Linked DNA regions of Homo sapiens. The protein of the gene in region 1 binds, or shares a complex with, the protein of each later gene. Each region holds a gene or a part of one and is shown on either strand. Other genes may lie near its edges.

Region 1 (10,752 bases):
CTTCATTTTTAAGAGCTGTACGTATCTGAAATCTTTCTGTCTTAAGACCAAATTTATCAGGTAAGTACTACCATTATCCCCATTTTATAAATGAAGAAACTGAGGCATAGAGGTCCAAAGTCATCCAACTCCTAAGTGGCAGAACTAGATGCAGCCCAGGAAGTCTGGTTCATGATCATTAAGGGGAAAGACTGAAGATGCCTAATCAGAAGGGAGGAAAAATGGGTCAGAAGCTGGAAATGACAGTTGTCAGAAAATAACTGGCAGAGGTAACAGGGCAGCTAGACCTGGGGTATTAGGCAAATCCTTGGGAGAGAGGAGTTCTCATCTGGAAGGGAAAAGTTGGGCAAGGATGTTGGTAGGAAAGGATAGAAGCTGGAGGAGAGGAAGTTGGGAACTCACACTGTGTATCCATATAGGGACAAGATGAGGCTTCTATTTACCTTCTGAGTAGCAGAGAAGGAACTTCCCGACATCAGGCAGGGCAGGGTCTCTGCTGAAGACTGACACCGGTGAGCACCAGCCACTGATGTTAACATTTTTCCCCTAAAAACCAACTTGAGAACCACCAGGGGTATACACACCACATTCTGCAAAATGTTGAGATCACTCCTCTCTAAAAAATATAAAGTGCTTTGGGTAACATTTGATGAATGTCCAAGACTTGTATGTTTCCACGATTATTTCATAGACAAAATATACAACTTAAAACACGCGTGATCTGCTGGTGCACACAAACACACACATCATAGCTAAATGAAAATATCAAGCATAGAACAGCTTTATTACACATTTTGCCAGTTCCTCATGTTTCTTCAACACTTGGCTTTTCAAAAACAAATTTTCGAGACGTTTTGTCTTTTACACTTTCCAGTTTTCACGGACCAAGATGTTAATAAAAGTAAACAACTTGGGGAAATCGGATGAGCGTTGTCATATTTGTAGATATCAGGATCTCTAAGAAGGAAAAATGTCATGTTTTGCCCTTAGTGATGTAATAGCACTTACGTGGAAATTCACCCATAGTATGTTAAGTATGTAAACTGTACTCATACTCAAGTTTACCAGACTATCCAGGTACTAAAACTAACACTAATGCAAATATATTTTAAAGGAATACATAAGTGATAAAAAGTGAAGTGCAGTAGAGTAACTAAGAACAAGTCCATTAGAGACAGACAGTTCTAAAACACTAGCATCATAGTATCATGTACTAGTATATATTGGTGTAACACACTACCATTATAGGGTTATTGTGAGGATTAAATGAGAGAGTGTTACATAAAGGATTTAAGGAGCACAGTGCTAAATGTATTTTAGCTGTTATTGTTCTAGCATGAAGAAGAATAAATTTAATAAGCTTCTTAGAAGTCTGATGGTTTTCATAACTTGGCTTTAATGAGTTTTAAATCCTGGCACTAATTTCCATATAGGCAGGTATATATTCATTCTGTTACCTCAAGGCTGACCTAATGGACTTGAATCAGCAGTTCCCAGAGTGTGGTGCACCGGCTCCTAAAGGTCCTAGAGTCTTTCAGAGGGCTACCAAGAAAAGAACTATTTTCATAATAAGTGTAAGGATTATCATTCTAATGTTATTAACAATAGCAAACTAATTTCATAATAATGCTAATCATCTAATACTATTTTTGTTTGTAATTATGTTGACATTTGCACTGATGGTGCAAAAGCAATGGTAGGTAACACCACTGATACCTTAGCATGAGTCAAGGCAGTGTTACCCAGCTGTGCTGGTACACATGGTAGTCTTCACTTTCATGTGCTCATAGAAAAAACAGAAGCTAGTTTTATTAACCAATGTCCCTGACGAAGCAGTACTTCTATTAAGTCCAGACCCTTGAGTGCACATCTTTTTAATATTTCATGTGATGAAATGGGAAGTACCCACAAAGCACTTCTGCTGTGTACTGAAGTATGATGGTTATCTTGAGGTGAAGCACTTGTACCTCCGTTTGAGTTGGGAACTAACTAGCCACATTTTTCACGGAACACTGTTTTTACCTGAATGAATGACACAAACTGTGGTATTCAGATTCGGGTATTTGGCAGATATTTTCTCAAGAATTAATGAAGTAAGTCTGTTACTTCAAGGAAAACAACTCAAAATATTTGTTACTAATGATAAAACTCAAGCTTAGTAACTTCTCAATACTTAAAGACTTTTATGATGAGATCAGTGGTGGTGATATTAATGAATGTGATTAGGCTGATATTGTGTAATGACATGTGACAATATTTGTAAGATCTGCATAACTCAGACATTTTCCAAATGAAAATACATGCTGTTATACAATCAATCATACATATGTAAAAAATCCATTCAAAGTGAAAAATAGATCAATGGGATTTCCTTGACATGGTTTTAGATTTCACATTGCAACTAACCTTTAAGAAACTACAACTTGTCATCTGGGCGCAGTGGCTCACGCCTGTAATCCCAGCACTTTGGGAGGCTGAGGTGGGTGGATCACCTGAGGTCAGGAGTTCAAGACCAGCCTGGCCAACATAGTGAAACCCCGTCTCTACTAAAAATACCAAAATTAGCCAAGTGTGGGGGCACATGCCTGTAGTCCCAGCTACTTGGGAGGCTGAGGCAGGAGAATCACTTGACCTGGGAGGTGGAGGATGCAGCGAGCCAAGATTGCGCCACTGCACTCACTCCAGCCTGGGCAACAGAGTGAGACTCCATCTCAAGAAAGAAAGAAAGAGAGAGAGAGAGAGAAAGAAAGAAACTATAACTTGTCAAGTTTGGGTGTAATATCAAAGAAAAATATCCAAAATGAAAAGGCTACTAAAATATTCCTCCTTTTCCCAACCACATATCTTTGTGAGTCCAAATTTTCTTCATATATTTCAAAATATCATACATTATAGATATATCCAAATACAAGAATTCACTTTTCTACTGTTAAGCCATACATTACAGAGGTTTACAAAAATGAAGAATAACGCCATTCTTCTCACTAGTTTTTTTTACATTTAGGACCATATAGTTATTGTTCATAAAAATTCATTATAGTTACATATAATAGGTTTATCATAAATATTTAAAATGAATTAATTATTTAAAAACTTTTTTTTTGGAGATGGAGTCTCACTCTGTCACCCAGGCTGGAGTGCAGTGGCGTGACCTTGGCTCACTGCAACGTCCGCCTCCCAGGTTCAAACGATCCTCCCGCCTCAGCCTCCTGAGTAGCTGGGACTACAGGCACATGCCACCATGCACAGCTAATTTTTGTATTTTTAGTAGAGACAGGGTTTTGCCATGCTGGCCAGGCTGGTCTTGAACTCATTACCCCAAGTGATCTGCCTGCCTCGGCCTCCCAAAGTGCTAGGATTACAAGCATGAGCCACCGTACCCGGCCCAAGAGTGTAATGAGATTCTGAGACCAAAATGTTTAAGAACCACTATTTTGAATAGTTCTGCAAAGTTGGGCTGGTTCTCCCAGAAAGACAGTGCTTAGAGCCAAACCTACTGTAAGAAGTGAACATTTCCTAGTAAGGTTCAGCAGTGGAACATTGTTAGGAAGGAAATTCAGAAGCTGGAGTTAGAATTGTAACAGTTCATTTTCACAGTAACAGATAAGTGGAACAGATTAGGACCATTGGGCTCAAGGCAGGCAAACAAAGTCATTTTTTGAAAGATAGGCTGCATGTCTGCATTAAGGAAAAAGAGCTGAAACTCTTTTTTTTTTTTTTTTTTTTGACAAGTTCTTGCTCTGTCACCCAGACTGGAGTGCAATAGTATGATCAGGGCTCACTGCAGCCTTGATCTTCCAGGCTCAACTCACCCTCCCATCTCAGCCTCCTGAGTAGCTGGGGCTATAGGCACACACCACCATGCCTGGCTAATTTTTTTGTATTTTTTGTAGAGACGGGGTTTTGGCCATGTTGTCCAGGCTAGTCTCAAACTCCTGGGCTTATAAGACCCTCCCACTTTGGCCTCCCAAAATGCTGGGGTCATAGGCATGAGCCACCCAACTGGTGGAGAGACAGGATCTTGCCATGTTGCCTGTTATAAGTAAAATGTTTATTTAGAAACAGAATGCTTGTTCCTCGGTACCACGAGGAAAAATCAGCATTTAGAGAGAAAGTTTTCTCAGCAATGCAATTTTAGTTTCTGCAGAAAGGGTGCTCCTTGCAGCTGGAACAATGGCAAGAGCACACCTGAATAAAGGAAAGAAGCAATTTTTATCCCTTACGCAGTTTGTCCCTGCTACTGTGCCTTGTCTCCATTGGCTGGAGCCAGACCTTACAATTTAAACTGAACCTGATAGGCTAACAACTTAAAACTTTTCTAAATAGGTAAAAGCAATGGAGAACAAAGGAAAAGAGGAAGTTATTTATGAAAAGACTTAGAAAAGTAGTAACATTCCCAAATAGGGAAGGGGCATAGGCTGCAAGCTGGGACATGCCAGTGAGCATGTCCAGCACAGGTATCTTGGTTAAAGTACATGGACATAGAATGTACTCATTCCCTTAGATCTAACAGCTACATAGGAAAGGGCTTAACAGAGAGTTATTAGCATAAAATAAGGTGGCTTGAAGGAAGTTAGTCTTTAAAAGAAACCATTATTTCTAACACTTATTATTCATTCTTTAACAAGAAGGGAAGCTTTGAAGAGGAAACTTTACTTTCTACATTGTCCAAGCTGGTCTTGAACTCCTGGGCTCAAGCAATCCTCCTGCCTCAGCCTCCCGAAGTGCTGAGATTATAGGCAGGAGCCACAGAGCCTGGCCCTGTTTGTTCTTGATGTGTCTCCAGACATATTAGGGAGAAATTTGTCCTTCTGTGATTCAAATAAGACAAAAGGAAGTGGCAATTGGATCTCACCTCTGGCCCACAATTCCAGCTCAAGGTGGGAGGTCATAATAAAAAGTGTTAGAACATTTCCTTGCTGGAATGGTAACATGGTCAACTGCAGAAATTTAGCTCTAAGATTGATGTGGGAATCCCTCAACTGTCTGTCTCCTTTCCAGTCAACAAGTGAACAATGCCAGCCCTGAGGCCCAGGAGCTTTTCAGATTCTGGCCTTCAGTCTAAGGGTAACGATGTTAAAACTTGAATATTGTTTAGGCTCTGAATTTAATAAGCGATAAAAACCATGAGAAACTATTTGACCCATTTCAGCCTCTTGATGTTCTGAAATTTCCATCTCACTGGGATGAAAAGAAGAAAGGCATGATCCAAGTAAAAAATGGGTTGTCTGTCCAAGAGGAAAAGGAAGCATAGGGACGAATTCTAGCTTTAGATGGGATTGTTTCTGGAAATAGGAGACACGTAGCACCACCAACGAGGTCAACACCAAGGAATGACTGCAAGTCACCCAGTAGGCTCTCCAAACCTTCCTTTAATCATTGAGGAAATGTTCCTTCCATATCCACCCAATCCATCTTGGTCACAAAGGACCATTTATCTTCCTCAAGACTGCTTCTATGTGAAGAAAATAAAGAATAATGATTCACGTGATCCCTGGCGTCGGCCTGGCTAGATCTCAATCCTGACTCTACCAGTTGTAATGACCTGGGCAGACGATGCCATCTCTCAGGCTTTAATTTCCTTCTCTGTTAAAATGACAAGCGGCAGTACTGATTTTATAAAGTTCTTGTGAGGATTATCTAAAATAATGACTATCAAGCACTTAATACAGGACATGGCACACACTGAGTGCCGAATAAACGGTAGTTATTATTAGGGAGGTTCTTTGCTTCGTATTCCCATCTGTGAGCAGTTTTTTCCGTTATTTCTCCGCAGAAACCCTTTCTCTCCGGGCTGCTGATCTGCGAAGCATCTGGTCCTTCATATCCCTGAGTCATCAGCATGAAGATGCCTGGTTTCCGAAGTCCTCCCTCCTCCTACTGCTCTCTAGGGCTCCCTCTCCTGACTGCTTAGTTCTCCTGGGGGCCCAGACCTAAATTTCGTGAGGGTATGTCTTTCTCGGGGCCGGGTCACCAGTCTTGGAGGAATGTCCTCAGTCCCCTTTGCCCCAGACACCACCAGAGATGCGGCAACAGAACTCTGAGGCGCGCCCCGGCTTCCAAGTAGCTGGGGGCGGGGCCGCGCCTGGAGGTGAGCAGCAGGCGGTGGGCGGGGCCGCGCTCCGTCCGAGGTGAGAGCGAGGCCGGGTGCGAGGCCACACCCCGAGGTACGAGAGCTGAGGGCGTGGCCACACCCCAGCTCTGAGCGAGGCTGAGGGCGGAACCGCACCCCGAAGTGGGTGCAAGGCTGGGGGCGTGGCCGCGCGGTGAGGCAGCCAGGACCGTGAGGGATGCGCCAGCCGCCTCCGCAGGCGGCGCGCGCAGCCGCCCGCAGGGCGTGAGGCAGAGCAGGGGTTAAGGCCGCCGGCGCCACCTGGGCGTCGCTGAGGAGACCCGCGAGCCGGCGAATCCCGCGCGGGCGGGGCGAACAGGTGCCCGCGCGCGTCAGGCGCCGGCAAGGGGCGGGGCGAGGGGACGCGGCCGGAAGCCCGGGGCGGGGCGCTGCCGGCCCGGTGAGCCGGGAGGAGCCGGGGAAGGCAGGAAGGAGCTCGCCGGGTTGCGCGGCGCGCGATGTGGAGCCGCCGCCTCGGCCCCTGCAGCAGCAGCAGCCGCCGTCGCCGCCGCTGCTGCTGGGGCTGCCGCGGAGCCGGGGGTCATGGAGTGCGGCTGCAGAGAGCGGCCGCCGGCAACAGCAGCAGCAGCAGGAAGCGTCGCGGCGACAGCGGAGCGCAGCCCGCCCCGTGAGGCGCTGCCCGGCCGGCGGCGGCAGCAGCAGCAGCAGCGGCAGCGGCAACAGGGCGGCTGAGAACCCGGCGGCGGCGTTCCTCCTCGCTTCCTCCCCTCCCGCTTCGCCGACCCTCAGTCTCTGTTCCTGAGTCCTCCCTTCCCCAGCCTTCCCGTTCCCACCACCTACTCCGCCACTACCCCCACCCCCTCCTCCCGCGCGCGCCTGAGCAGCTGAGCCCGGGGGCGGGGGAGGGGGCGCGTGCCGCCGGCGCGGGGGAGGGGCGGGCCGGCGCGCGCCGCGCCCAGGGCTCGCGGGGACCCGGGGGCGCGTGCCGCGGCGCGAGGCGAGGCGCGGGACGCGGGGCGGCGCGGCAGGGCCCCTCCCCCCTGCAGCCTGGCGCGCGCGGGCCGGGCCGCACCGCTGCGGGCTCCGCGCGCGCGGGCCATGTCCGCTTTCTGCCTGGGCTTGGTCGGCCGCGCTTCAGCACCCGCCGAGCCGGACAGCGCCTGCTGCATGGAGCTGCCCGCCGCGGCCGGGGACGCAGTCCGGAGTCCCGCCGCCGCCGCCGCCCTCATCTTCCCCGGGGGCTCCGGGGAGCTAGAACTGGCGTTAGAGGAGGAGCTGGCGCTGCTGGCGGCCGGGGAGCGGCCGTCCGACCCCGGGGAACACCCTCAGGCCGAGCCTGGGTCTCTGGCCGAGGGGGCCGGACCGCAGCCGCCGCCCTCCCAGGACCCCGAGCTGCTGTCGGTGATCCGACAGAAGGAGAAGGATCTGGTGTTGGCGGCCCGGCTGGGTAAGGCGCTGCTCGAGAGGAACCAGGACATGAGCCGGCAGTACGAGCAGATGCATAAGGAGCTGACAGACAAGCTCGAGGTGAGGACCTCCCTCCAGGGATGGGTGGGGAGCAGGGGCCGCCCAGGCACGCGCCCGGCCCTGGGCAGTTAGGGAACCACTCACCCCCACTTCGTTGCTCACCCTACCTCGCAGAAAATCTGGAATGAATGGGGGAGGGAGGATGGAGGATTATCAGATTTCGTTGAACCCACTTGACTTCCCCACCCCGCTCACAGCAAATGGGTCCATGCGTGGCTCCAGCCGCTGTGGGCCGTTCTATATACGTACTGTACCCAGCATCTAAAATAGAGCTTACAGTATGACTATATAGCACTGAGGTGATGTCTGCATACAGAGAAATGAGGAAGTCGGGAAGCATTTAAAATATGTTGCAGGTTTTCAGAGCAGTTAATCTCTAATCAGGGTGTTAGCCTAAAGCCTTCCAGTTTGGGCGTTAAGGCCTTTAGATGCCCTTGTCTTAACTTCCTGGCAGCTCAGAGTTGTGGGAAACAAGTGCCCCTAAAGGAGCTTTATATAGCCTTCAAATGCTCAGGGATTAGGAAATGTGGTTCCATTGCAGAAATCAGGCGAGCCAGGGCTCAACATGTGACCGCTGGTAGTGGATTTAATTTGGGCCTCAGTATTTATGTGTATTTAAACAGTACTTTTCTGTGTTCTGGGTCTCAGGCTTGCAATTGAATGACCAAATGCAACCTATGAGAACCATATTACTTTAACTTCTGTTATAAAATACCTGTTAAGGTATCCGTAATATTTCTGCCAGTTCTCTAGGCAGTCTTTCAGAGTTGTTTGTTTTCTTGCCCTTAACTAGAAAAGGGCCTTGAATGCAGTACAGAATGCCAGCATTTCTAAAAATTAGATTGCAAAAAAAAGGGGCAGGGGGATGGGGAGAGGGAGTCACCTGTGACTTACCTTTCCTGCCTGTGCGTTTACTATTATTGTTACCTAGTTTGGTTGCAGCCAGCTCTTTTCATTCTTAGTTACAGCAAGACAATAGTACAGACCTGAATGAGGTTTGAAATTGACCCTAGTCAGGTTCCGTATCTCTGCTACTGGTTGAACAGTCAGAATGGAAATTCAGAAATATTCTGTAATAAGATTTAAGTATGCCTATAGTCCAGCGACGTAAAAGTAAATCCGGGAGAAAAAAAGGAAACCTGTGAGTGCCCTGTAGTTCGGTTGTCCTGCTAACTAGGTCTGCCAGTCGATGAACTCCTGAGATACCTCTCTGAAAAGTCGTTTGTGAAACCTATAGGTAGACTGCCAAAAAGCAGCCTAATGAATTGAATTGTTTAATTTTCACTTGAAGTAGAGGTCTAGAAATAAAAAGCCTTCCTTTTTTTTTTATAAAGAGATTCAGTTGTACGACTTTGTAAAGAAGTACAACTACAGAGATTTATACTTGTGATTTGAAATTTCTTCAGTGAAGGACTTGATTGAAGAGACAGCTGACTTGAAAGGAGCACCGTATCAGTTTGATTAGTGCCAGATTTCATAGTAATCCTGAGTGTGCAATTACATACATTCTGGGTTCCATGTGGAGCCTTTATACATTTCTTCAACATAGGGCAAAGATTTCAGAATGGTAACAAAAAAAGGTTGTATTGTAAAAGAATAAATTATCTTTGACATTTTGTTATTTACTTAATGGACAACAATAGTTTAAAACTCTTTAAACTATTTTTTAAAACCTTCATTCCTCTGCAGGTCAGCATATGAACTCTAGTTTTAAAAGTTCAATTTTAAGTTCTGGAGATAGTCGCACAACAATGTGAATATAACTAACATATACTTAACATATACTTACAGGCCAAATATTGATCATTGTTGAAACTCAGTGATGAGGGGAGTCAGTTATATTATTTCTTATAGGTAGGTTTGAAAATTATAAAAAATTTTAAAGTTTTAAAAATGTTCATTAAAGATACTAAGAGAGTACCATTAGTTGCTTGTTAATCTTTCTAGTGTTAATGTGAGAGTGACAAACCTGGTTTACAGAGTACTGTTTTATTTGACACCTCCGGTTTAGTTTTCCCCACAGTACATTGTTTGAACAATGTAGGTTTTAGAATGTCTGTTTAGACAATACTTTCTAACGTTCAGTACAAACTGCTGTACTTTGTACTTTTTTCTTTTTTAGACAAGATCTCACTCTATCCCCCAGGCTGCAGTGGAGTGGCTGATCATGGCTTACTGCACCCTCAAGTGACCCTCCCACTCAGCCTCCTGAGTAGCTGGGACTACAGGCGCCTACTACACACCTGGCTAATTTTGTAAAAATGTTTCGTAGAGATGGGGTCTCACTATGTTGCCAAGGCTGGTCTCAAACTACGGGGCTCAAGCAGTCCTCCTGCCCTGGCCTTCCAAAGTGGTGGGATTACAGGAGTGAACCATTGAGCCTGGCCTGTATTTTCAATTAAATCAAACACTTGGGAGTATAAAACCAGTACTTTAAGACGCATTTATTCATGAGAGAACTTGACCAGAAAAAAAAAATTTATAATCTTCCACAAACTGTCGGACATTTGGAGTCAAACACATTTTCTTACAGGGTGGTTTGAAAGAGAAACATGTGAGTGGACTGAGGGAATGCCACTTTCACTATTGAATAATGAGACTGGTTTTATTTTAATCCCATCTTCTCTACTACTTCAAAATTGGCACCTTTCTTCCACCCCCCCACCCTGCCCCCCAGATGGAGTCTCGCTCTGTCGCCCAGTCTGGAGTGCAGTGGCGCAATCTCAGCTCACTGCAAGCTCCACCTCCCAGGTTCATGACATTCTCCTGCCTCAGCCTCCTGAGCAGCTGGGACTACAGGCGCCCGCCACCACGCCTGGCTAATTTTTTTTTTTTTTTTGTATTTTTAGTAGAGACGGGGTTTCACCATGTTAGCCAAGATGTTCTCGAGCTCCTGACCTCGTGATCCGCCTGCCTCGGCCTCCCAAAGTGCTGGGATTACAGGCATGAGCCACTGCGCCGGGCCGGCACCTTTCTAATGTCGGGACAAACAAGGCATTTTCAAGATCTTTTCTACCTATTCATTAGTTAATACTAAATACCTCTCTGGTTCTGTGTGCCAAGCCCAAGATTTTGTTGTTTTCATTTCAAACATTAAAGTACTTGATGCTACACTATTGTGTCATTAAAGGCATACTATTAATATTTAAAGT
Region 2 (11,354 bases), on another chromosome or scaffold:
TATACAGTCGGTCCTGCTCAGGTGGTGCCAGGCACCCCCAGGGGCCCAGGGGCTCCCAGCACTGGGCCTGGCCTTCCTCTGGATCCACCTGCTAAGCCACAAAGCATGCTCGCTTGGCATCCCCAAAGACGAGCTGCTCCATCACAGCTGTGCCTGCCTTGAATCCCATGGAGGGTGGCCAGGTCCACGCCTCCACATGCTGGCAGGGCTGGCCTGGAGCACACCATCCGCATGCCTAGGGCTGGGCAGATTCCCTGGCCAGGTCCCAGGATGATTGAGATACACAAGTGCCCAGTCGCCAGGCCCTACAGGAAGAAACAGCACCAGGGCTCGATGTGGGAGTTTCAGACATTTTTAAAAGTGTAAGGGTCCCTAAAGATTCCTTCATGACCCCCTGCCCCATATTCTAAAAGTGGGGAAAGAGAGGCCCAGCGGGGAGAGAATTGCCCAACAATTAGTGACAACAGTGTAGCCACATGGTCATCATCTTTGGATGCCTATAGCTGCCTCTCCCCAACTGTCAGACCCATCTGTGCTTCAGGTATTCACAGGGCCCCAGCTCCCACCCAAGCCAGGCTTCCTCATACCAACAGCAGACCACTGCCACCACCCAGCCCCCTGAAAGGCCCTTGGGTCTCCCAGAGCCTCCTTGCTCCCAACAGCCTTCTGTTCAGAAATGGACACAACAATGTTCTCAGGGGTTATCAGACGAATGGGAGAATCCCACACTTGCTTTAACCAAGACCAGGACTTTTCCTGCTCTGGAAGCAAACAATCAAAGAGGCTGGGCCTCACCCCCAGTAACTCTGCAGAGGAACCTCCTGGAGGGTCCTCTGCCAATCACCCTATTGCCCCCACTTCCTGCAGCTGCCCAGGTGCTGGGAACAGGGCTCAGCAAGTCCAGAAGGCAGCAGGCAGGGGAATTTTAGAGACACCCAAGCTTGAAGGGCAGGTGGGACTTCTAAGACAAAGGGTGAATGTGGGCACAGGAGAGGTAGGGCAGTCCCAAGCCAGGCTGTAGGGGCCTGAGACAATGCTTAGGGCAGCCCTTGGGAGGTGGCAATGGAAGCCACTTGAGACTGAGCAGGGACAAGGATAAGAACGGGGAGAAGCTGCAGGTGCAGCAGCAAGGAGACAGAGACCTGAGTGAGGCATGAGATTCAGTCCGCAGAAGACCTACGAAGCACTTGCTGCGTGTTGGGTGCTGTGCCCAGTCCAACACCCAATTCCACCCACGTGCACCTCTCAGACAAGGACAATGGTGCTCCAGAGCTTGACACTATGACACCAAGGTGGCACACCAAGGCAGTGAGGGTGTCCAGACCTCCTCTCTGAGCCTGAGCTCAGGTGGAGTCAAGACTGTTCTCAGACCTCCCCCATTACCCTCCCCTGACCATGAGGACCACATGGGCACCTAGCCTTAGCCCACCTAGCTACAGTCCCTGCCTGTGCCCTGAAGGCAGGAGCTGCCACCTCAGCACACCTGTCCTCTTAAAGCTACAGCTAAGAACACAGAACAAAGTGTCTCACGGCCACGCAGGACCAGGAACACCAGGTTGCTGACCAAAGCCCATCTAATTCTCTTCCCCACCATTCCAGGGAGAGGAAGGGAAAGGGCACAGTGGGAACGGGGACAGATATGGTCTTAACTGAGTCAGGCTCAAGAAATCACTAGCAGAATGATTAGGCAAAATCAACCAGGGGGCACCCACCTCACTTGTGGTCTCAGCCAGCACCGTGCTATGTTGTCAGCAGGACACAGACACTTCCCCCATCCCATGAGAAAGGCAACAGGACTGGCACTGTCTCCCATTCATCACCACAAGACCCTCCTCAGCTCTGATCAGAAACCCACACACTGGGACCAGCAGGCCAGCGTCCTTCCCTCAACGATCCTATTATCTACAAATGCAGGGCAGAAGTACAAGCAACTCCATTTGGAGCACAATTTATTAGTAACTAAATGCACTTTAGTTCAAGAAATAAAGTTTTCTAAAGAATTAAGGCGGTACACCGCTCTACAGGAGAAAAAAAACCCCACAATTATTGACTCCTTAAATCTTGTGGTTTTTTTTAAATGAAGAGTTAATATTTTCAACTATAATACTGGCCATAATTAAATAGGTTAGCAAGAGCCTGTGTTGGCATGGGTGTGAGGAACACGCATGCTGTTGATGGGGGGTGAACTGGTACAAACTTTCTGGCAACATCTACTGAAACTGAAACGCTGATGCACATTCCTCTAGACTCTGCTAGAGACCGAGCAGAAACATTCTTATCCCACCTTACAAAGGAGAACTAGATTCAGAACAGAGCAGTAATTTGTCCAAGGCCATGTGGCCAGTACATGGAAGCCAGGTGGTGACAAAAAACAAGCAAGCAGACGCCTAAAGAGTACCCACAGAAACAGGTATACCCTCTTCCTGATTCTGCTAGGGACTCACCCTCCAGATACATGCCACGAAAATGCCAAGATTCTTCACTGTGCCAAAACGTTTGTGTCAGAATAGCAAAGACCTGACAAATGAAGGGCACCAAAGCGGGGACAAGTTAAGTCAGCGACAATTCCTTCTCACAGAGGACACTGCCAAACCCAAGCTGTGGACAGAGACAGGGACTGTAGAGGCTGCCCAGGAGCGGCTCACGATGCACTTGGTAGGAGGAAGAGGGCTGCTTCACTGTGTGCAGAGGGAAAAGCGCCCTAACAGATAGTGCTGCCTGCTGGAGAGGGTGAGCCCCGCTACAGGAGACCAGAAACTGGCCGAGTCCACTCCCACTCCATATTCTCAGAGCCCCCTGCCTCCCTATCACACGCCCCACCCTAAGATGGGGACTCTTGCAAGAGCAGCTGCATCTCACCCCTCTTGTAGCTCCAGCGCCACTGGAGCATGCATTGCAGAAGGTGCCAATACCTGCTGACAGACAACAGAATCGAGTCCTGAGGGCGATGGGGGAGGACCCAGCTCCTGCTGGCCCAGGGTCAGCCATTGACTGGTACTAACTGAGCACCTGCTCTGCCCAGACATCCAAGCATCTGCTTGGATTCATTCTCTGCTCTCCACAGACGGGTCTCCTCAGACACGGGGGAGGCAAGGAAGGCTGCAAATGATTTAGGCACCTGTCTGGGCTGACTGGGAGCAGAGGTGCCAGGTGATAAGCCTGGAAACCAAGAGCCAAGGGCTCACCAGGACACACTCAAGTGGGGGAAGGGAGCACACCACCAAGCTATACTCCTGACCGCACACCAGTCCTTTCCAAATACATGACCCTCACAACAATCCTTTCTGGGCACGCAGTACTGCACTCCCATTTTGCAGAGGGGGAAACTAAGACTCACGGAGGGCCTCTACCCAAAGCCACATCACTAGCAAGGGGCACAGCCTGGATCCAAACCCTGGTGTATCCTCCCAGAAAGCAATTCCTGCAAACAACGCTATGGAGTCAGGGAACGGGAGAAGAGAAGCTGGGGAAGGACTGTCCAAGACTCCCGCTGCCCTGCCGCCTGGAGACCCTCGACCAGCCTGGTGGTCTAACCTACTCTCCCCCCAGTGGGAATGACACAGACCACTGAGGTCTCCGTCCAAGAGGAACACAGCAAGCCACAGCGAGGGGAAGGGCCCGAGAAGCGGGGCTGGACAGGAAGTGGGCCAGGGAAGTCATGCTAGCTGGTGGGAGCGCAATCCCGGCCATGAGGACACAGCGCTGGGCCTGGGGCAAGGGTACTGGGGGACCCATGCCAGGGGCAACCTCCACGTGCAACCCCGAGCCCCTACTCACTTAGGCCGCTGTCCACGACCTTTCCCCACCTCGGAGGCACTCATGAAAGAAGCAGAAACGCTCCGAAAGTAGCTGCGCCCAGAGAGGGGAAGTGCTTTCTCTGAAGGTGACAGAGCCGCAGCCACCCAGACCCAGGCCCACCCTCGGCCTCTCCCAGCGGGTCACCAGCATCCGTGGCCTCAGCTCCCGGCTCAGCCACTGCCCTCCCAACCCCACCCCACACTCAGACACACCCGGAACAGCGACCACCGCAAAGCATCAGCCCTTACGAAGCCCCGCCCCGCCGGGGCCGCCCAGGTCCGCACAGAAGCAGGCGGGCAGCTGCAGGAGGCGACAAGGCGCCCGGACCCCTGCATTAGCGGCGTCTGCAACGGCCGCGGCACCGGCCTGCTAGCCAAGGCCGGGCCCACTCCCACATACTGCCCGTGCCCCCTCCGCCCCGGCGGCCCACCCCTGCCGGCCCCCGCTTGGCAAGCTGACCTTGGCCGCCCTGGTGCCAGGGACGACGCCCACAGGCCCCGGCGCCGGGCGGGGGTCGCAGGGCAGGGCGGCTCGGCTCACCTCCTTGAGCTGCTCCATCTCGCTGCGGATAGCCTCATAGTCCACCTCGAGCTCCTCGAACTGCAGCTTGAGCTGGTGCTTCTCCTCGAGCACCGCCAGCCCGTACTCGGCCGCCTGGATCTTCTCACGCGTGGTCTCGGCCAGCTCGTGGGACAGCCGCTTCACCTCGGCGCGCAGCCACTCCGGCTGCGCCTCCATCACCAGCCGCGCGTACTCCTCCTCCTCCGACGGCGCCGACATGGTGGCCGAGGGCTGAGCCGGCTCCCACTGAGGCTCTCGCAGGCCGGGCCCTCCTCAGCCGCCGCCGCTGCCGCCGCCGCCGCCGCCCTGCCCCGACGGCCGCCCGCCCGCCCGCGCCGCCGCACGGCTCCTCCCCTCCGGCGCGCGGGGCCCGCTGGGGGCTGGAGTCCTGCCTGCGCTCCGACCACAAGGTCCATCATGCCCGGCGCCCGCCCGGCCCCCGGCTATGATTGGCCCATGCTCTGTGAGGGGCGGGCCCTCGGGCGCAGCCACTGACGCCAATGTGGCCCAGGGGGCTGTGGGGACAGTAGTCCCGCTAGCGCACCGACTACAAAACCCGTCCAGCCCCGCGCCCACCCGTCCCCGTCCGTGATTGGCCTGCGCCGCCAGCGTCGAGCCGGATGTACCGGCGCCTTGCAGTCCCCTGGACGGCGGTCGAGTGGGCGCGGCCCCGCGGCCTTCCCCACACTCAGAGCCGGGGACACTGCTCGGTCGCCGGGCCTCGCGCTCCCCTGTGCCTCTGGCAGCCGGCGGCCACGCGGGGTGGCAAGACGGCTGCCGGGAGAACCCCCAGGGGGAGGCGGGTGCGGGGCGGCAGGACTGGGCTCCCGACCGTGGGACGAACAACGCGGACAGAGCCCGGGAGGCCACGAGCTAGAAGCGCATCCGAGAGCGCGGGTGAACGGCTGCTGCTGGAAACCCGTGGACGGTGTGACGCATGCTCTGTGCAGACGTCTGGGGGCGGGAGGAGGACGGGCCAGCAGGGGGCGCCCAGGGGCCAGCGGGAACCTCAGCACCGCCCCTCAGTCCTTCAAGGTCTATTTCTTGGGAATAAAGACATTTCCATTAATACAGGGTCATAAACGTGGTAAATATAATTGTTGTCTCCGCATCTATTTTTAGGCCTGACTTAAGTTGTTTGAAAGCCAGTCGTACCCTTCGCCTTGGCGTAGGTAACACTTCTCCGTATATGGTGGTGTGTGAGATAACTCGTTTATTCTTTATCTCATTGACCTAAAGCGCAACACACCCCACAGCCGCTGACCGCCATAGCACCTAATGGCCAGTATCAGTGCAGATGAGTTCACCCTTCCCTCGTATTTTCTTTAGCCAGTCCACAGGCCCCAAGGGAAATCCTAAAGGATGATTTCCATGGACCCTAGCACAGCCATAGTCCCTTCCTTCCCACCGTCTCTCACTGCCCCTCTCCATCTGCTTGTCCGCCTCTCTTAGGCATCCCTAACCTCTCCGGAACCTAAGAATAATAAATTCCTTCTGTTTTGTACCTTTTAATTTTACTTTCTCATTGTATCTCACCTGAACCCCACACCCATTCGGTTCTCCTAGAGAGTGGCTATCTTGGCTTATGGTCACTCTCCCTCAAGACCAAATTAGAAAGAAGCCATGACAGCAGAAATCACAGCACACAGGGTACTGACACTATCTAATGCACAGTCCACACTCTAATTGCACGAGGGCCCAACACCATACTGGAGAGTTTCAGTATTGTTTTTGTGGTCCAGGATCCAGTTGCATTCAGTCGTCAGGTTTCCTGAGTCTCCTTTGATTGACCTTTCTGAGGAGTGCAGTGCACACTGGTATATGCTCATGGGGTGATGAGGTGATGCGTTTCTGGCAGGACTGTCACTGAGGTGTTGCTGAGTTTTCAGAGCACCAGCCGGGAGGTATGTGATGTCGATTTGCATTTCTCTGATTGATGCTGGGTTTTTCTTTGGTAATTAGTGTCATGAGTGAAGACTTTGCAACCATAGATATAGCCTATGACTCCTCAAACCTTGACCCACTGGTTTTGGCATTCATGACTACTTCTTGCCTGAAATAATTATTACCATACTGTCTGCTTTTTTTTTTTTTTTTTTTTTTTTTTTTTTGAGACAGAGTCTCGCTCTGTCCCCAGGCTGGAGGGCAGAGATGCAATTTCGGCTCACTGCAACCTCTGCTTCCCGGGTTCAAGTGATTCTGCCTCAGCCTCCCGAGTAGCTGGGACTACAGGCGCATGCCACCATGCCCAGCTAATTTTTTTTTTTTTTTTTTTTTTTTTAGTAGAGAGTGGGTTTCACCATGTTGGCCAGGATGGTCTCGATCTCTTGACCTCGTGATCTGCCTGCCTCGGCCTCCCAAAGTGTTAAGATTACAGGCGTGAGCGACCGCGACCAGCCATACTGGCTGCTTTTCTATTTCCATTAGTCCTTCTCCATTTATGAGTTGCCTTTGTACTGTGAGGCACCTATACCTTCTCATCTATTCCCTTCTCTCTCATTCATTAGCAGTATGGATCCATGGATTCTTATTTTACTCCGTGGGTTACAATCCATTACTTTCCTTACTTGCTTTGATGCTCAAATGGTAGCAGATTTGGCCCGTGGGAGCTCCTCCAAGCTGGCTCCATGTCTTCAAAACATCGTAATTTGTTATTATTGTTATTACTTCCTTGATGTCTGATGCAAATTGTTCCAAGATCATCTTGTGCTCTCCATGTCCCAGACCTGAAATCAGTCATTTCCCCAAGGAGCCCTGATTCTTTTTAGTGTTTTGTTTGTCTGAGGAGAATGTGTCATAGATTGGCTTGTGAAATTAACTAATTTTAAGGAGTTCAGTTGTAGTAGGAATAGGAAGACCAACCTTCCTGGCTTACCTGGGACTGTCTTGGGCTGGGCAAATTGTTAACTGTAAGTGGGAGAGCTCCCAGTGTAAAGAAGGAACAAGACTTGTTTGAGTGTGTACTTAGCAAGGGAGGGACTGATGCCCCACAGTGACTTGCCCAAGGTCACACAGCCTCAGGGCAACACCTGCACCTGATCCAGGCTGATCTGACTCGAACCTCCCCACCCCCCGCCATACCTTGCTGTGGGGCAGGTCTGAGGAGGGAGGGAGAAAGACCATGGGAGTCCCACGCAGGGACTGACCATGGCGCTTTGAACTTGGAAACAGGTGGTGGTGGAAGGGAGGCCAGGGAAGGTTTCAGGAACATTCTGTTACAGGTAGGGACTCTCCTAGGTGCTGGGGGCAGAGGGTCTGTCACTACCCTTGTGGTCTTCCTTCTGGCAGGAGGGACAGCTCTGGGTGCGAGTGGCAATGTGTGATGGGGTGGGGTGGATCGGGAAAGGCTTCCCTGAGAAGACACCTGAGGGAGACCCAGAGGATGCACAGGAACTGGCCAGCCCAAGGCTGCAGGAATAGGGGGCTTGCAAAGATAAGAGAAGCAGGGTGATCCTGGCAGCAGATAATGAGCCACCTCTTACTGAGCTCTGCATGTGTTCCCAACATTGCCAGGTACGTGACATACATCTTCTCATTCAATCTTCACAATACCCTGAGGGGTAGAAATGATGCCACCTTCTTCTCCTCAAGTCTCTCTGTCTCTGGCCAGACTCTTCTCCAAAGTTACACCATCAAGCTGTCACTCTGAAGTCAAGCCGCTTCTCTCCAACATCCAGCCATAGTCCCCGACATCCAGCTGCTTCTCCTGTCTGCTGGCTGAGCCTGGGGTCCTTATAGGCAAAGGATGGGGCAGGGCGGGGCCATGGGTAGTTTAGGAAACAGCGACATTTGAGTGGGAAACAGGGATATAAGTTCTTATTTTGGGCTGCGGTTTCAGGCCTTTCAGCTTGACGGTGAGGCTTCACCAGGGACCCGCCCTTTTCTACCTGGAATTTCTCTGCCCCAGTCCCTATCACCTGGACCATTACCGTCACCCTCTCACTGCCTCCTTGCCTCCTCCTTCCCCTAGGCTTCTCTCACAGCAGGGCAGCCAAGAGTTTCCTTAGACCCAAGTCAGGTCCCATTCCCACTCTGCTCAAAACCCAACCAAAGTCAAAGCCCCATCATCACAGCTACCTCCAAGGCCCTGCACGCTCAAGTGTGGCCCTTCCTCAACCTCTTCCTTCCCCTCTCCTCTTGTGTAGCTCTTGTAAACCAAAAAGTATCTGAGACAAATCTTAATCAACTCAGAAAGTTTATTTTGCCAAGGTTAAGGATGCATCCATGACACAGCCTTAGGAGATCCTAATGACATGTGCCCAAGGTGGTCAAGGTACAGCTTGCTTTTATACATTTTTGGGAGACATAATGTCAGAGACATTTGAACCAGAGCAACTCCATCTCAAATAGGGGCTGAGTAAAATAAGGCTGAGACCTACTGGGCAGCATTCCCAGGAAGTTAGGCATTCTAACTCACAGGATGAGATAGGAGGTTGGCACAAGATAAAGGTCACAAAGACCGTGCTGATAAAACAGGTTGCAGTAAAGAAGCCAGACAAGGCTGGGCACGGTGGCTCACGCCTTTAATCCGAGCACTTTGGGAGGCTGAGGCGGGCAGATGACCTGAGGTCAGGAATGCGAGACCAACCTGGCCACCATGGTGAAACCCCGTCTCTACTAAAAAAATACAAAAATTAGCCGGGAGTGGTGGCGGGTGCCTGTAATCCCAGCTACTCGGGAGGCTGAGGCAGGAGAATTGCTTGAACCCGAGAGGCAGAGTTTGCAGTGAGCCAAGATCACGCCACCACACTCCAGCCTGGGTGACAGAACGAGACTCTGCCTCAAAAAAAAAAAAGAAGGCAGACAAAACCCACCAAAACCAAGATGGCAATAAAAGTGACCTCTAGTCATTCTCACTGCTCATAATGTGCTAGTTATAATGCATTAGCATGCTAAGACACTCACACCAGCGCCGTGACAGTTTACAAATGCCATGCCAATGTCAGGAAGTTACCCTATATGGTCTAACAAGGGGATGAACCCTCAGTTCTGCAAAGTGCCTACCACTTCCCCAGAAAACTCATGAATAATCCACCCTTCTTTAGCATATCATCAAGAAATGACTATAAGTATCCTTAGTCAAGCAGCCCATGATGCTGCTCTGCCTATGGAGTAGCCACTCTTTATTCCTTTACTTTCCTAATAAACTTGCTTTCACTTTACTCTATGGAGTCACCCAGAATTCTTTTTTGCACGAAGTCCAGGAACCCTCTTTTGGGGTCTGGATCAGAACCCCTTTCCAGTAACAGTGATACATCAATCAATACATGTAAGATTTACATTGGTTCCATCTAGAAGGGCGGGACAACTTGAAGTGTACAAGGGGTGGGGGGTCTTCCAGGTCTTAGGTAGATTTAAACATATTCTGACTGCAATTGGTTGAAAAAGTTATTTATTATCAGTAGAAAGGAATGTCTGGTTTATCATCAGGGGTTGTAAAGGCTGAGGTTTTATCATGCATATGAAACCTTTAAATAGCAGGCTTTAGATATACTAGACTGTAAATGTTTCTTATCAGACTTAAAGTTTGTGTTGATGTAAAATAAACCCTGGGCATGTCCAACCCCCACTTCATGTCATGGCCTGAACAGGTTAGTCTTTCAAGTTAAATTTTAGAATGCCCTGGCTGAGGAGGAGGTTCATTCAGATGGTTGGGCGTGCCTTCAAATTTTATTTTTGGTTACACCCTCACGGCTGTAGGCTGCAGACTCCCTTCCCTGGTTCTATTTCCCTCCCTCTGTTGCATACTGTATGTTGTGCATATTCACCTTTGTGCACTTATGTCCCCCTAGAATGTTAGCTCTAGGAGGGCAGGAGCTTTGATGAGGCCTAGTGAGTCTTGGGACCCATATCAGGGACACCAACCAAGGTCCCTTAGGGGTCAGGGCTCAGCGGATACAGACCAGGCTGGGCTCACCATGCACCACTTCCTGGACACAAGCGCCCTCCACCAGGAAGGCAGGATACATAAGATAAGGGAGGCGGCCTCAGCAGAGGTGGGAGGGAGAGGGGCTTGAGGGGTGTCAGGGAACAGCTGGGTGGCTCCCTCTAGGAGAACTGGACCGCTTAGCTGGGGCCTGGCAACAAAACAGGAAGTGATGTTCTCCCAACCAAGCTGCTCTGCCTTTGCACATAAACAAAGACTCCCCAGGGGCCCAGGCAAAGGCTGGCAGTGTCCTCACACACAGACATGCCCAGGCTCAAACCTAACCTGGTGTGTAGTCACTCTGGCAGCTCAGCCTCCCCTCCTTCCTCACTGTTCCCTGGAGAGCTCTGCCTACCCACGTAAGCACCTTCCCCTGTCTCCTCTCTGCCCCTCACTGGCTGAGGAGTAAAGCCATCTCCCCAACAGGTGATGGCCTGCCAGGTGTATGTGGCTTGGGCCACCCGCATGGTGAGTCACATGGCAGCCCCCACACTTTCATGCTGTATGACGTCAAAGGATCTTTGGCCCAGGTTGGGCATGGTGGCTCACGCCTGTAATCCCAGCATTTTGAGACACCAAGGCAGGTGAATCACCTGAGGTCAGGGGTTCAAGGCCAGCCTGGCCAACATGGTGAAGCCCTGTCTCTACTAAAATACAAAAATGAGCTGGGCGTGGTGGCGGGCACCTGTAGTCCCAGCTACTCTGGGACTATTCCCAGCTAGGCTGAGGCAGGAGAATCACTTGAACCTGGAAGGCAGAGATTGCAGTGAGCTGAGATCTCGCCAGCACTCCAGCCTGGGCGACAGAGGAAGACTCTGTCTCAAAGAAAAAAAAAAAGATCTTTGGCCCAGATATCACGCATTTGATAAACTCCTCTGTGCTAGGAATTTAGACAGTAATGATGATGTGGCAGGCCAGGTCTCACTAACAGTTGAACAGGTAGGCCTCCATAACAACTGCTTCAGCACTGACTGAATGGTTAGATAGTAAAGGCTGAAAGAGCCAGTGCGCATACACAATGGCTAGAATGTAACAGACGCCCTCCAAGAGTCTTGCCCGGGCCTCTCCT

Evidence for each region.
Region 2: BICDL1 (region 1) and BICD2 share a complex: the UniProt entries of both Homo sapiens proteins name them as parts of the tripartite complex.

The regions. Positions count from the first base shown.
Region 1 is NC_000012.12:119,982,698-119,993,449, forward strand, and holds the start of BICDL1 (BICD family-like cargo adapter 1), read left to right. Parts: upstream 1-6,538; 5' UTR 6,539-7,171; coding exon 7,172-7,600; intron 7,601-10,752. UniProt on the Homo sapiens protein: Acts as an adapter protein linking the dynein motor complex to various cargos and converts dynein from a non-processive to a highly processive motor in the presence of dynactin.
Region 2 is NC_000009.12:92,760,167-92,771,520, forward strand, and holds the start of BICD2 (protein bicaudal D homolog 2), read right to left. Parts: upstream 4,668-11,354; 5' UTR 4,579-4,667; coding exon 4,339-4,578; coding exon of another isoform or gene 4,258-4,338; intron 1-4,257. UniProt on the Homo sapiens protein: Acts as an adapter protein linking the dynein motor complex to various cargos and converts dynein from a non-processive to a highly processive motor in the presence of dynactin.